2 separate regions of the Homo sapiens genome follow, and region 2 is linked to region 1. Evidence: fine-mapped expression QTL. Tissue or cell type: whole blood. Region 1 holds a variant in brackets; the other region holds the start of a gene. All regions are shown on one strand. Distances are from middle to middle.

Region 1 (8,100 bases):
GGGGAGAGAGGCCCATCCCTGCCCTGGAGGAGCCCATGGCCCTTTGGGCAAGGCTGACCAGTGGAGTTGTCAGCTGCTGGGATCCTGCACACAGGTGCTACACCGAGGTGGAGGTGTGCTGCCATGAGGGTGCATGCAACGGGGCGTGGGCTCCTCTGGGGAGGCAGAGGAGGCTTCGACGAGGAAAAATCTTCTACCTCCAACTCCAAAAGATGCCCAGGAGTTTTCCAGGAGAGAAGTGGGAGAAGAAAGGCATTTTTCCAGCAGGGAACAGCAGGGCCAGAGGCACAGAGACAGAATAACAGTAGCTACACTTTGGGGGCTCTTACTGTGTGCTAGGCACTGGGTTAAGCACCAGACAGGAGTGATCTTGTTGGGTCTTTACCCCACTAGGAGGTGTAGGTGCTGTGGGGGGAAAGGGAGGCTGAGTGAGGTGAGTGCTCTGCCAGAGTCATGTAGCTAGGGAGGGGTGACTCGGGGCCCCACTCTCCCCACCTGCGGCGCTGCTCTCGGGCCAGCAGTGTGATGGGCAGGTGCAGAGGGGCATAAGGTGCAGAGGCTGCCTGACAGCTGTGCCTTACCACATTCTTTCTCACAAGGTCTCCAGGGAGTAAACAGGCCTTTGGCCCCCTGCCTTTGGGCTCTCCTTTCCTGCAGGGAGGGAGTGAGGGAAGGAGAAGCAGAAGATGGCTGAGCAGCCCTACCCCACTGGAGAGGGGCCTAGAGGAACAGGGGTGTTAAGCGCAGTAGCCGACCCCCATTCATGCTTCCCGCAGGCCAGGCATTCTTTCAAAGACTGTGTGCACGGACTCATCCTATCTGTATCTGTTCAGGAACACTATGAAGGAAGTGTTATTAGCTTGACTTTATGGAGGACATGGAGGCAGAGGGGTTAGAGGCTACAGTGGTTTTCAGTCTTGGGCAGTCTGCTCTAGAACCCACGCGTCGGCCCGTGCCACACTGTTTCTAGTGACACAGACAGCCTTTTCCTGCCCCAGTCTGTGGAGCTCTCACTCCAGCCAGACTGCAGTGAACAGAGCTGGGGCTGGAGGTCCGGGAGGACAGAGCCCAATGCAGATTCTTGGCTGCAGCCCTCCAGGCTGCAAGGCTGAAATCCTTTCTGGTCCAGGCAGGGCAGCGGGAGGTTTCTGGGCACCTGAGCAGCCAGATGACAGCCCTTTATTATCCAGCACCTGCTCTGTGGTGGCTGGACCCCCTCAGAGGGGCTCTGTCTCCGCCCCCACATGCCCTTTGAGCTGCTCTGAGAAGCCACAGGAGCAACAGCTGTGGAGAGAGACTCTGCGGGGAAGCAGCCAACACCCCAGTCTCCCTACCCTGGCCTGCGTCCTTGTGCCTGGAGAACTGCCGGGCACGTCCCTCTCAGAACAGCAGGTGGCAGCATTGCATCTGTTTTCACCACCAAAGGGCTGTGACCCCCTGAGACCTGAGACCCTCTGCAGATACCTCAGTAACTAGTGGTTTCCAGGAGGAGAATGTAAGGGAGACGCAGAAGGGGATGTAACTTTTCTCCATAACTGATAAAAAAAAAAATTTAGGAGCAAGGATCCCTTTGCTTGTAAAATAACTCTTCAGCTGAACTTTTTGTTAGCAGCGTATATCTTTATAGGAAACCTATCTTTTTCCTTATGTTTTTTCTATATTTTCATAGGAAACCTCCCAACAAATAATGAATGTGCTTCCCAGGGACAAAGAGAAAGTGTCAGAATGAAGATGCTGGAGAAAATCCTTCTGTCATTTTCCAGCACCTATGCTATTTCTTGCAGGGAAAAGAGGTGTTCTGGGGTCAGACTGTCCTGGGTTCAAATTCTGTCTCACTTGCACACTTGCAGTGTGACCATTGTGTGATTTCTTTTCTTTCTTTTTTTTTTTTTTTGAAACGGAGTCTTGTTCTGTCATCCAGGCTGGAATGCAGTGGTGCAATCTCAGCTCACTGCAACCTCCATCTCAGCCTCCCAAAGTGCTGGGATTACAGGCATGAGCCACTGTGCCTTTTTTTTTTTGAAATGGAGTCTCCCCTCTGTTACCCAGTCTGGAGTGCAGTGGCGCGATCTCAGCTCACTGCAACCTCCATCTCAGCCTCCCAAAGTGCTGGGATTACAGGCATGAGCCACTGTGCCTTTTTTTTTTTTTGAAATGGAGTCTCCCCTCTGTTACCCAGTCTGGAGTGCAGTGGCGCGATCTCGGCTCACTACAACCTCCGCCTCCTAGGTTCAAGTGATTCTCCTGCCTCAGCCTCCTGAGTAGCTGGGACTACAGTCTTGTGCCACCACTCCCGGTTAATTTTTTTTTTTTTTGAGATGGAGTTTTGCTCTTGTTGCCCAGGCTGGAGTACAATGGCACAATCTTGGCTCACTGCAACCTCCGCCTCCTGGGTTCAAGCGATTCTCCTGCCTCAGCCTCCCAAGTAGCTGGGATTACAGGCGCCTGCCACCATGCCCAGCTTATTTTTGTATTTTTAGTAGAGACGGGGTTTCACCTTGTTGGCCAGGCTGGTCTCAAACTCCTGACCTCAGGTGATCCACCTGCCTCGGCCTCCCAAAGTGCTGGGATTACAGGCGTGAGCCATGCCGCCCGGCCGTGTGATTTCTTTTCTATCGATCTCAGGTCCCTTGACTGCAAACTCAAATCAACGGCAGTGCGCATTTTCATGATGTCTGGATGGGATAAGCTATACAGCCCTCACGTGATGCACAGGACGGAGCTGGGCTCAGTCAATGATGGTTCCCTTTCTCTGCTTTTGGAAAGGTGTGCTGTCAACACCAATTTAAAGAGCTGGCAAAAACAGTCATTCTCAGGGCCTTTCTCTCATCGGCCTCTCAAAAGCACAGGCCTCCACAGAGATGAACAGTTTCTTTCTTTTTTTTCTTCTTTCTTTTTTGGAGACGGGTCTTGCTCTGTCACCCAGGCTGCAGTGCAGTGGCTGGATTTTGGCTCATCACAGCCCCAACCTCCTGGGCTCAAGCGATTCTTCTGCCTCAGCCTCCGGGTAGCTGGGACTACAGGCGCCAACCACCACGCCTGGCTAATTTTTGTATTTTTAGTACAGACAGGGTCTCACTGTGTCGCCCAGGCTGGTCTGGAACTCCTGGCCTCAAGGGATCTGCCTGCCTCAGCCTCCCAAAGTGCTGAGATTACAGGCGTGAGCCACCGCACCCGGCCTGACATGAACAAACTTTTATCTTTCTTCCCGCTTTTCTCTTATTTTTCAGAAGCTTCACTGTATGAAGATAGAATAATAACAAGAGAGAAGGACATGAGGAGAGTGAGAGATGAGCCCGAGAAGGTGGTGAAGCAGTGGGACCATAGTGAGGATGAGAAAGAGACAGATGAGGACGATGAGGCTTTTGGGGAAGCTCTGCAGAGCCCAGCAAGCGGAAAGCAGAGTGTGGAAGCAGGAAAAGCCAGAAGCGATTTGGGAGCAGTTGCCAAGGGCCTGTCAGGAGAATTAGGCACAAGATCAGGAGAAACAGGCAGGAAGCTACTAGAAGCTGGCAGAAGAGAGTCAAGAGAAATTTATAGGAGGCCTTCGGGAGAATTAGAGCAAAGACTCTCAGGAGAATTCAGCAGACAGGAACCAGAAGAACTAAAGAAACTTTCAGAAGTGGGCAGAAGAGAGCCAGAAGAACTGGGAAAAACACAATTTGGAGAAATAGGAGAAACGAAAAAAACAGGAAATGAGATGGAAAAGGAATATGAATGAAGCCATCGGTAGAGATGAGGATCAGGAAGCTGGTGTTCAGAGGGATCATGGGATTTTATTAAACTGGATTTTCAAGCGATTTGTCTGTTATAGGAAAAATGAGGGTTTTACTTCTGCTGCTTTCCATCACTATTTTGCCATTAAATAGGTGTCTTTCACTCTTGCAAACCCTGAGTCTGTCACTTTGCCTCTTCACCCCTGCCCATTCTTGGAAGAGCATCGTGGAAGAAATGAGAAAGGTGCCAAGAAGA[AAG/A]GGTTTCAGGAGGGTGAAGATACGGGCGCTACAGGGAACAAGAAGTCACAGGGAGGAGAGGGGAAGGCCTGGGAGGAGAGGTGCTTCCCACACACCGGTGACTGACTGAGTCCCTCCAGTGCGCAGGACAGCGGGGAGGCTTTATGGATGGAACAGTGGTGGGGCGGCCCCAGCTGTCACAGGTAGGAGAATGCCGCAAGCCAGAACCAAGCGAATGCTGGGAGTGAGGCCAAAGATAGGGGAGTGGCCTGGGAGTCGGGAGGGCAGACAGACTCCGCCTCTGACACCTCTGGGTGGCATAATCAGGTAAATCAGGCTCTCCAAGCTGGCTTCTCCTCTGAACAATGGGATACCTGCCTCAGGGGTTGCTGCGAGGACTGAGTGCTTAGCACAGCACTTGGACAGGAAACTCAAAAATCCAACGGAGCTCTCAGTGGTTTCACAGAGGAGGTGGCAGCTGAGGATCTGGCCTCAGAGGATGTTAGGATTTCACTCCGTTACTCATCTGTCCCTTTGGCCATTGCCATCCTGGTCTGTCTCCACAGCTCCTAGAAGGAAAGGTCGGGGCTGAGACTGACTTTCGGCTGGCACAGGGCCTGGACGAATGAGGCCAGTGAGGCATTTCAGATGCAGAGTTTACCGGAATGCCAGCAAATTGCATGATAATATTTTAATCCAATGTGGTAAAAAAAAAAGTTTTTAATTAATGCAAAAGTCCATGATGAATAAAATATCAAAAATTAAAGACAGGATCCGACTTTGCACGACCCTGCCTCACTCACTTCCTGCTAATCCACGGGACCGGGGAGGGTGACTGAGTTACCCCTCAACACGCAGAAAAAGCTAGTGGCCGCTCAGCTCGCAGGCGCAGTGGGTGGGTGCGCGTGGGGAGCAGGCGCGCGCAGGGGGCGGGACCGGGCCGAGGTTCCCGCGCGCGGCGAGAGTTTCGGGTTTTGGTTCGCAGCGCCTGCGCGCAGAGGAGACGGCCCGCCCCCAGCCCGCCCGGGTGCCCGCTCCGCCCCCCGGGCTATGTAAAGCGGCCGGGCTCGGGTCGTGCCACCGCTGGACTCCCGTGTCCCTCCGCGCAGGCGGGCGGCCCCGGAGCGCTGGTGCCGGCAGAGGCGGCGACGGTGGCGCCCCTCCTCATCATGGTGAGAGGCCGGGCGGGGCCGGGCACGGGGTAGCACCAGGGCGGGAAACGAGTGTCGGGGCCCCTCGGGAGGAAGCGTCTTGCAAACGAGGACCCGGGGCTCCGGGTTCGACTTCCAGTTTTCTTGGTACTCAGGGCGGCCCTGAGGTCTGGGAGAAGCGGAGGGGTTTTGGGGTGCCGGAGAGGCCGCTGTAAAGGGAAACGGTGGTGTTTCTCAGGAGGGAACTCGGGACCGCAGAAGCTGCTGCGCCTCTGGGAGCCTGGGTGGGCCTGGGCCGGGAGCCCGGGAGCTGCTCCCGACCCCACGCAGGCCCGCGCTGGGGCAGCCGCTTCGGCGCCCCCTCCCCGGGCCCAGTCTCATCACGCGGAACCGCTGCCCCGCGCCCGGGTGCGGGCGGGAGGTGGAGCCAGTTCAGAGGAGGGGACCCTTTACGGTAAAAGCTGCCGTCCCTTGTGGCTTCTAGAAGATAGGAAAACAAGTGGCTCCGAGAGGCGCTTCTGACACACAGCACAGCGGCGGGTAGAGCTGGATCCTAATTGCAGGTGCCCTGTGCTGCCCTGTTCTGGACAGGCACAAAGACCACGACTTTGTGGGGGCCGGGAGAGGGTAGAGGAGGAGGTGGCAGGCTTGGTGAAAGAGGGCCTTTGTCCAGTGCTCTCCTGCCCTGCCCCCCACCAGCCCTTCTGTGGGACCATTGTACCCGCATGCCAGACAAGAGAGTATTATCTGTTGCGGCCATTGTTGGGGGAAGGGAGGCAGTCTTGGGGTAACCCTTCTCCACTCCCCCCCTTCTCTGTGCACTCAGCCGTGGCAGCTGTGGCTTGGCCCAGACACAGAGACCCCCACCTCCAAAGAGGACGTCCTTAGTAGGTGCCAAGCATATAAGAGTGAGGCCAGTCCCAGAACCGCAGGCTCCTGGCGCGCCCCGCATGCCTCCAGCACGTTTACCTTTCCGAAGTGGCAGGAATGGGGAAAGCGCACGCTTAGGAGAGCTTCAGACAAGCTTCCCTCTTCCTCCTCCACGACCAGAAGCGGAAAGGTGCTCCCGGACCGAAAGGGAAAGAAGGTCCAGCACTGCCCCGCTTGGGAAGGCACCCACAACCAGTCTAGGGACTAGGGGTAAGGCCGGCGGGGAGCCCGCGAATGACCTGGGCTGACATCTCTTCCCCTCCTTACACAGAACAGAGGCTTCTCCCGAAAAAGCCACACATTCCTGCCCAAGATCTTCTTCCGCAAGATGTCATCCTCAGGGGCCAAGGACAAGCCTGAGCTGCAGTTTCCCTTCCTTCAGGATGAGGACACAGTGGCCACGCTGCTAGAGTGCAAGACGCTCTTCATCTTGCGCGGCCTGCCAGGAAGCGGCAAGTCCACGCTGGCACGGGTCATCGTGGACAAGTACCGTGATGGCACCAAGATGGTGTCGGCTGACGCTTACAAGATCACCCCCGGCGCTCGAGGAGCCTTCTCCGAGGAGTACAAGCGGCTCGATGAGGACCTGGCTGCCTACTGCCGCCGCCGGGACATCAGAATTCTTGTGCTTGATGACACCAACCACGAACGGGAACGGCTGGAGCAGCTCTTTGAAATGGCCGACCAGTACCAGTACCAGGTGGTGCTGGTGGAGCCCAAGACGGCGTGGCGGCTGGACTGTGCCCAGCTCAAGGAGAAGAACCAGTGGCAGCTGTCGGCTGATGACCTGAAGAAGCTGAAGCCTGGGCTGGAGAAGGACTTCCTGCCGCTCTACTTCGGCTGGTTCCTGACCAAGAAGAGCTCTGAGACCCTCCGCAAAGCCGGCCAGGTCTTCCTGGAAGAGCTGGGGAACCACAAGGCCTTCAAGAAGGAGCTGCGACAATGTAGGTGGCAGGTTGGGGCCTTATAAGCCCACCTTGCTGGGCACAGGGTGCTGCGGGCAAAGGACCATCATTGTACTCAAAGGATGGAGCACGAAGCAGCAGGAGGCAGAGAGAGGCTCACCTCAGCGGGGGCAGGGGCAAGCGGTGCGTCCCAGTGGTAGCCTTGGGGAGTTGGCAGCACATTGGGAACACGGGGGCTTCCCAGAGCGCCTTTCCTCCCACCACACCTATCCTTCTAGCCCTCTTCTCTCCGACACCCTTTTCCCAGCCTGAATGTAGACCACTGTCCCTTGTCTTGGAGGTGGGAAAAACAAATTACTGTAGTAACAGGAAACATGTCCTCTTCTAATGTAACCTTAGAGGGGGAATCAAGCCCAGTGTTTTCCAACGCATTTTTAGCAGCAGAATCATGTTCCAAAAAATAATAATAATAATCACATGAAATTGTAAGCTGCAAAAAAATTAAAACTAGGACTATTGTGGCTTCACTGGGGATGGTTCTCAGGCCTCGGACTGCTCAATTTACTCATGGGTTTGTGGCATCTGCAGCTCCAGAGGACACAAGTCTCACACTTAGGCCAAAACCCGTTTTCAGATGGAAAAACATGGACCCAGGAGGGATGTGGGGTTTACGGGCTGGAACCCTGGACTCTGGCCACTCTAGCAGGGTTCTCTCTTGGCATGGGCTTTTTGCTCCAATGATAGGTTTGAGATAAAGAAGGGTCCTGGTGGCTCTCCTGGAGTGACCTGTTGGAGAAGTGCCACCCACTAATCCATCTATATGCCTTTAGGCCATTTCTGGTTGCCTCCAATTTTATTTATTTATTTATTGTGACACGGAGTCTCCCTCTGTTGCCCAGGCTGGAGTGCAGTGGCGCTATCTCAGCTCAGTGCAACCTCTGCCTCCCAGATTCAAGCAATTCTCCTGCCTCAGCCTCTCGAGTAGCTAGGACTACAGGTGTGCACCACCACGTCCAGCTAATTTTTGTATTTTTAGTAGAGACGGAGTTTCACAATGTTGGCCAGGCTGGTATTGAACTCCTGACCTCAGGTGATCCGCTTGCCTTGGCCTCCCAAAGTGCTGGGATTACAGGCGTGAGCCACCACCGCACCCAGCCACCC
Region 2 (8,100 bases), 34 kb before region 1:
TTTAAATATTTCTAGTTAATTTTTGTATATGGTATGAGGTAAGGATCAAGGTTTAGACTAGGCGCAGTGGCTCATGCCTGTAATCACAGCACTTTGGGAGGCTAAGGTGGGTGGATTACCTGAGGTCAGAAGTTCGAGATTAGCCTGGCTAACACAGTGAAACCCTGTCTCTACCAAAAATATGAAAATTAGCCGGGCATGGTGGTGCACACCTGTAGTCCCTGCTACTTGGGAGGCGGAGGCAGAAGAATCACTTGAACCTGGGAGGCAGAGGTGGCAGTGAGCTGAGATCACGCCACTGCACTCCAGCCTGGGTGACAGAGTGAGACTCCATCTCAAAAAAAAAAAAACTCAATATTTATATTTAGACAGGCATGGTGGCTCACATCTGTAAGCCTGGCACTTTGAGAGGCCGCGGTGGGAGGATTGCTTGAGTTCAGGAGTTCAAAACCAGCCTGGGCAACATGGCAAAACCCTGTCTCTACCAAAACAACACAAAAATCAGCTGGGTGTGGTGGTGCGTGTCTGTAGTCCCAGCTACTCAGGAGGCTGAGGTGGGAGGGTGGCCTGAGCCCAGAAAGCAGAGGTTGCAGTGAGTCAAGATCTCACTACTGCACTCCAGCCTGGTGGACAAGGCCAACTCTCTCTCAAAAAATAAAAATAAAAATTAATTAAATACATATTTACATTAAAATATTTCCAGTTGATTTTTGTATATAGTGTGAGGTAAGGATCAAGGTTTTTTATTTTGGATTTTGTCTTTCCATATGGCTATCCAATTGCTTCAGCACACATTTGTGGAAAAGAGTATCCTTTCTCCATTGAATCTCTTTGGCAACTTCATTGAACATCAATTGATCATATATGTGTGGATCTATTTCTGTTCCATTAATCCATATATATTTACATATTTATGCTAATACCATTACCGTAGCTTTAAAATAAGTCTTGAAATCACAGAATTTAAGTTCTCTTTTGTTCTTCTTTTTCAAAATGGTTTTGGCTATTTTAGGTCTTTTGCATTTCCACATAAATCTTAAAATCAGCTTGTTAATTACTGAAAAAAAAAAAAGGCTGCTGGGGCCAGGCACAGTGGCTCATGCCTGTAATCCCAGCACTTTGAGAGGCTGAGGCGGGCAGATCACCTGAGGTCAGGAGTTCAAGACCAGCCTGGCCAACATGGTGAAACCTCATCTCTACTAAAAATACAAAAAATTAGCTGGGCATGGTGGTGTGCACCTGTAATCCCAGCTACTCAGGAGGCTAAGGCAGGAGACTAGCTTGAAACCGGGAGGCGGAGATTGCAGTGAGCCGAGATCACATCACTGCACTCCAGCCTGAGTGACAGAGTGAGACTCCACCATAAAAAAAAAAAAAAAAAAGCTGCTGGAGTTCTGATTGGAACTGCACTGAATCTGTAGATCTCTTCCTTGCAGGAGGTTTTTTTCTGATTAATCCTGGTTGCTCCAGCAACAGTCCTCAACTCATCAATGAGCCCACCTTAACTTAGAACAGGACCAGTTTCACTGCAGGTCCTTAAACCTGTTGCTGCTCCTTAAACACCCTGTGAATGTACACACCTCCAGCCTTTGCACATGTTATTTCCTTTTTTTTTTTTTTTTTTGAGACAGGGTCTTGCTTTGTTACACAGGCTACAATGCAGTGGCCCAAACATGGCTCACTGCAGCCTCGACCTCCCACGCTCAAGTGATCCTCCTGCCTCAGCTTCCTGAGTAGCTGGGACTACAGGCACACGCCACCACACCCAGCTCACTTTTGTATTTGTGGTAGAGACAGGGCTTCGCCATGTTGCCCAGACTGGTCTCGAACTCCTGAGCTCAAGCGATCCTCCCACCTCAGTCTCCAAAGTACTGGGATTACAGGCATGAGCCACCACACCTAGCTCTCATTCTCTACTTACGTCTACTGGGCTCCACCATACTCACCCTCAGCTCAAATATTACCCCTCTATGAACATGTCTCTAACCCATCCCAGACCCTGGCTGAATCATTCATTTGCCTGGGTTTCACACCACTTTGTCCTCATCTCCCTCACAGGCACACAGAACTTTTAATTACTAGTTAATATCACTTAAGTGGCCGTTACTTGTTTATACATCTTTCTCCCCTATTAGATAAAACTCCTTCAAGCAGGGACCATATTATTTCTTATATTTTGAATTAAACCTTTTGAGATAATCATAGATTCATATGCAGTTCATAAGAAATAAATACAAAAGAGATCCCATGTACCCTTTTCCCAGTTTCTCCCAATGGTAACATCCTTAAAAACTTTAGTACAATAACACAACCAGAAAATTGACACTGATACAATCCACTGATCTTACTCAAATATCCCCAGTTTTACATGTATGCCGTGTGTGTGTGTGTGTGTGTGCATTTGTAGTTAAAGACATCTTTTTACTATTTAAACTTTAACAATGACATTAGGACGTTTTGGAAGTAACGTAGTAAAGGCAGTTAAGCAAGCTACTTAGGGTATCGTTGGAGCCCAGAAGAAGCACCTAGTCCACTTTTGGAGGAGTGGTGATGGTGAGGGAATGGGGAAGGACGTCAGAATATGCCTTGGTCAAGGCCCGCTACTAGTAGCTGCTCAAATAACTGCGTTAAATTATGTTGAACCCAACGTTATTTTCCATGTTTTCTTATGCAAATCCTCGCATCCCTGAGTGTTCCATTATTTTCATATTTATTTGGCAGGTGGAACATTCGAGGCTGGGAGCCCTTACATGCCCCGCGAGAGGTCACGCAGTTAGGAAGTGACAGGAGCGAAGTCAGCCCAAGTCTGCTGACTCCAAGCCCAGTGCTCTCTCCCCCTAATGGCGGTACGCCGTGCACATATCCTTACCACGTATGCCTCATCCCTATTCGGAACTTTGCCTCCAACCCTCTTCCTGTTTTCTTGGCTGTCTTACAAGGGAGCCTTTTCAGGCAGCAACTCCAGAGAGAACCGCCAGAGCGTGCAACAGCAAACACTAACCAGCCCAGCCGTCAGCCACGCAATCATCACTCCCTGGCCCAGTGCGCGGCAGAACTGGCGCAAGCGCACGCCGGCAGGTTGTACCCAGAATCCGGGCCCTTGCCAGACGGGGGCGGAACCGGAAGTCGCTGTACATCTCATGGTTGCTAAGAAACGGAGCTTCCACAAACCAGATAGAGGTTCTCCAGCTTTTCTTTGATTGTCTCTGCTTTAGCGTCTCTAAATCCGGTCACCATGTCGGACCCCGAAGGCGAGACCTTGCGAAGCACCTTTCCCTCTTATATGGCCGAAGGCGAGCGGCTCTACCTGTGCGGGGAATTTTCTAAAGCCGCGCAGAGCTTCAGCAACGTGAGTCGAGCTCTCAACCTATCCATCACCCCATCACCCGTCACTTTTTTTTTTTTTTTTTTTTTTTTTTTTTGTGACGGAGTTTCGCTCTTGTTGCCTAGGCTGGAGTGCAATGGCACGATCTCGGCTCGCCGCAACCTCCGCCTCCCGGGTTCAAGTGATTCTCCTGCCTCCACCTCCCAAGTAGCTGGGACTACAGGCGCGTGCCACCATGCCCGGCTAATTATTTTGTCTTTTTAGTAGAGATGGGGGTTTCACTGTGTTGGCCAGGCTGGTCTCGAACTCCTGACCTCGTGATCCACCCGCTTCGGCCTCCCAAAGTGCTGGGATTACAGGCGTGAGCCACTGCGCCTGCCCCCTGCCCTCACCTTTTGATTGCAGATAACACTGAGGTCTTGATGATGCCTGGAGGACCCTGTTGTTTCTATTATTCACTGATTTTTGATGGACACACTGCTGTCACAGATAAGCCCTGTGGTTGGCCATTTTCTACCAGTTCCCACTTGCAATCTCCATTCTCTGCGTTAACAGTGACCTTTTCCTCCACTTTTACTTAAATGTTTCATGATTAACCGGCCTCCTTCCACAGAGCAGCCTTACCTTCCCATCATTTGCTGGCAGATTGGATGGGAGGTTGCATGCAGAAGCCTCAATGTCCCCAGCACACCGTTGCTTATAAAAGGTGGCCAGTAAGCAACATATGATTATTATTATCAATTTTGAGACAAAGTTTTGCTATGTTGCCCAGGCTGGAGTGCAGTGGCAAGATCTCAGCTCACTGCAACTTCCGCCTCCCCAGGTTCAAGCGATTTTCCTGCCTCAGCCTAGGGAGTAGTTGGGATTACAGGCATGTCCCACCACGCCTGGCTAATTTTTGTATTCTTAGTAGAGACAGGGTTTCACCATGTTGGCCAGGCTGGTGTCGAACTCCTGACCTCAAGTGATACACCTGCCTCGGCCCCCCAAAGTGCTGGGATTACTGAGGTGAGCTGCTGCACCAACCAGCAACATTATTATAGTAACCCTAGTATAAATTGCATCATCCCACCCTAAGGGGATTGGGTGATGGTTTTTGTTGTTGTTGTTGTTGTTGTTGTTGTTGTTTTGGAGACGTAGTCTTGCTCTGTCTCCAGGCTGGAGTGCAATGGTGCGATCTTGGCTCACTGCAACCTCCACCTCCTGGATTCAAGTGATTCTCCTGCCTCAGCCTCAGGCACACTGCTAAGCAGACTGGATTTTTGTTGTTGTTAAGATGGAGTTTTGCTCTTCTTGCCCAGGCTGGAGTGCAGTGGCGCAATCTCGGCTCACCCCAACCTCCACCTCCCAGGTTCAAGCGATTCTCCTGCCTCAGCCTCCCGAGTAGCTGGGATCCCAGGCATGCACCACCATGCTCGGCTAATTTTGTATTTTTAGTAGAGACGGGGTTTCTCCATGTTGGTCAGGTTGATCTCGAACTCCCCACCTCAGGTGATCCCCCCCCACCTCAGCCTCCCAAAGTGCTGGGATTACAGGCGTGAACCACCCCACCCAGTGCATACTCAATTTTATAGATTAGGAAATATACAGAAGTTGAGCAACATGCCCAAGGTCGCTAAACTAGCAAGTGGCAGAGGAAGGATTCAAAGCCGGGCTCAGACTCCAATGCTGAGGTGCTAACCACAAAACTACACATCTGACATCTGCATAAGGAAACTGTTGTTTTTTTTTTGTTTGTTTGTTTTTTCAGAGACAGGATCTCGTTCTGTCTCCCAAGCTGGAATGTGGTGGCACAATCACAGCTCAATACAGCTTCAAACTCCTGAGCTCAAGTGATCCTCCCACCTTAGTGTTCCAAGTAGCTGGAGCTACAGGCTTATGCCACCACGCCTGGCTAATTTTTTCTTTTCTTCTTTTTTTTTTTTTTTTTTGTAGAGATAGGTGTTTTGCTATGTTGCCCTGGCTGGTATTGAACACTTGAGCTCAAGTAATACTCCCGCTTTGGCCTCACAAAGTGCTAGGATTACAGGTATGAGATACAGTGCCCTAAAAACATGTTTTTATGACCATTTCTTTTGCTCCAAATTGCCCACTTCTTCTGCTCCAAATTGCCCACTTCTTCTTCTAGATGGAGTGATAGGATAACCCTGTAGTTTTGAGACTTCCTGTAAGATCAAGCTTCTCAACAGCTCCCCAGAGTCGTTTGTCCCTTTCAGTCACCAACCACACCCTAAAACCAGAAATGATGACCAGATAAGTGAACAATTGAGTTCGGTAGCCCTGTCCCCACTTATTCTCCTCCTGCTGGATCATGTCCCATCCTGAAGTACCCACCAGCAGAGAAAAAAGAACACCCTGAGGGAAGGGTAGCCTTGGATGAGAAGCAGTCACTTTCCAGAAAGACAGTAGCTACTTCCTCTTCTTAGAAAAGTAGGAAGGTCTTAGAAAGGGGTGGGTACCAGGAGACAGAGGGTTGCAGTGAGCCAAGATCATGCCATTGCACTCTAGCCTGGGCAACAAGAGTGAAACTCTGTCTCAAAAAAAAAAAAAAAAAAGACCAGGTCAGGTGGCTCATGCCTGTAATCCCAGCACTTTGGGAGGCCAAGGCAGGTGGATCACCTGAGGTCAGGTGTTTGAGACCAGCCTGGCTAACATGGTGAAACCCTGTTTCTACTAAAAATACAAAAAATCAACCGGACGTGGTGGCGAGTGCCTGTAATCCCAGCTACTCCGGAGGCTGAGGCAGGAGAATTGCTTGAACCCGGGAGGCGGAGGTTGCAGTGAGCCGAGATCGTGCCATTGCACTCCAGCTTTGGCAACAAGAGCAAAACGCCATCTCAAAAAAAAAAAATTAGCCAGGTGTGGTGGCGGGCACCCGTAGTCCCAGGTACTCGGGAGGCTGAAGCAGGAGAATTGCTTCAACCCGGGACTCGGAGATTGCAGTGAGCAGAGATCGTGCCACTGCACTCCAGCCTGGGTGACAGTGTGAGACTCTGTCTCAAAAAAGAAAAAGGGGGGTGGGTACAGTTAGATGCCTCAGGAAGGACAGTACACCACAGACTATGGTAATCATCTCACACAGAAAAGAGGACACTGGGAGTGGGGATATTGCCCTCAACCCCACTTTAGGGTCAAAATCAGTTTCATTTTCCTAGCATTTTCTTTTTTTTTTTTCTTTCTTGTTTTTCATTTTTCTTTTCCCTTTCTTTCTTTTTTCTTTCTTTCTTTTTTTTTTTTTTTTTTTTTGAGACAGCGTCTCACTCCATCACCCAGGCTGGAGTGCAGTGGCATGATCTCAGTTCACTGCAACCTCTGCCTCCCAGGTTCAAGCGATTTTCTTGCCTTAGACTCCCGAGTAGCTGGGATTACAGGTGCTTACCACCATGTCTGGCTAATTTTTGTATTTTTAGTAGAAATGGGTTTCACCACGTTGGCCAGGCTGGTCTCAAACTCCTGACTTCAAGTGACCCACCCACCTTGGTCTCCCAAAGTTCTGGGATTACAGGTGTGAGCCACTGCACCCGGCCTCTTTTTGTTTTGTTTTGTTTTGTTTTTTGAGACAGAGTCTCATTCTGTCACCCAGGCTGGAGTGCAGTGGTGTGATCATGGCTTATGCAGCCTCGACCTCTCCAGGTTCAAGCAATCCTCCCATCTCAGCCTCCTGAGTAGCTGGGACTACAATCATGGACCACCACGCCCAGCTAATTTTTTTGTATTTCGTAGAGACAGGGTTTTGCCATGTTGCCCAGGCTGGTCTCAAACTCTTGGGCTCAAGCGTTCCGCCCACCTCGACCTGCCAAAGTGCTGGGATTACAGGTGTGAGCCACCACTCCCAGCCTTTTCCTGGTATTTTCATCTTAATCCCCGGATATAGTGATTAGTTCTTGATTAGCTACATAAAAAGAGAAGGCTACTGGAATGGTTAAGCCACATGGCAGATTGTCCTCAAGTCCACTTCAGAATGCTTAGCCTTTGAAATTTGCTTTGAGTATGATGTGTTGCCATTTCAGGTTTGTAGTTGAGTTTGGTGTGCACAAAATACCCTACAGTTCTATTGCCTGAGGGGACTGAGGGGCTCTCAGACATTGGTGGAAAGTCAGCGTATCCACAGAGCAGCATATTCCTACTCTTCAGCCAGTGGCTTCCACAATAGCCATGATTTGACCTTGTTCAAGGTGAGCCATATGCAGATAATCAAGTTGACTGAGCGCAGATCGGAGTTGTTCTGCTTAGGAGCCAGAGGCCTGTGTGCTGGCCTGAAGAATCCCCTTGATTCTTCAGAGCCTTGATTTCTTCAGAGCCTGAAGAAATCCCCTCTGCAGGAGGGTTTGGGCTGCCCTTCCCACTCCAGCTTCTACCTTGCTCTTCATGCTGGCTGTCAACCTGACTGGTTTCTTTGTCAGGCTCTTTACCTTCAGGATGGAGACAAGAACTGCCTGGTTGCTCGCTCAAAGTGCTTCCTGAAGATGGGAGACTTGGAGAGATCCCTGAAGGATGCTGAGGCTTCGCTCCAGAGTGACCCAGCTTTCTGTAAGGTGACTGCATGGGCGGGAGGACTGGATCCTGCCATTGCCTGTAGCAACTTCTGGTTACAAGTAGTTGTTACAAGTAGAACCAGCCAGACTGCCTAGTGTTTGATGCCATTTTCTCTTCCTAGGTCATTGCCTAAGTCCCTGCCCCCTGTATTCCAACCTTGACCTTCAACCCAGGACCCTTCTGTTCCACCACATGTGAGTCCTATAAGGCCTTATCTGTTCACATTGATTTGATTTCCT

Evidence for each region. PIP is the estimated chance that this variant, and not a neighbour inherited with it, causes the effect.
Region 2: it holds the start of ODAD4, and the variant in region 1 is fine-mapped to the expression of ODAD4 in whole blood (TOPMed, PIP above 0.99).

The regions. Positions count from the first base shown.
Region 1 is chr17:41,961,763-41,969,862 of GRCh38, forward strand. ODAD4 (outer dynein arm docking complex subunit 4) reads left to right here. Exons shown (of 12, transcript NM_031421.5): 12 at 3,231-4,741. The coding sequence ends at 3,721. CNP (2'',3''-cyclic nucleotide 3'' phosphodiesterase) reads left to right here and starts at 5,033. Exons shown (of 4, transcript NM_033133.5): 1 at 5,033-5,125; 2 at 6,306-6,978. The coding sequence starts at 5,123. RefSeq lists silencers at 1,324-1,473, 4,776-5,215, 5,346-5,535 and enhancers at 4,306-4,405, 5,507-6,064, 6,065-6,622, 6,623-7,180. The variant AAG/A (reference allele first, on the strand shown) is at 3,973.
Region 2 is chr17:41,927,489-41,935,588 of GRCh38, forward strand. ODAD4 (outer dynein arm docking complex subunit 4) reads left to right here and starts at 3,129. Exons shown (of 12, transcript NM_031421.5): 1 at 3,129-3,349; 2 at 7,729-7,860. The coding sequence starts at 3,236. It also overlaps a transcript of ACLY not described here. RefSeq lists enhancers at 2,252-3,155, 2,868-2,957, 3,138-3,237, 7,955-8,100.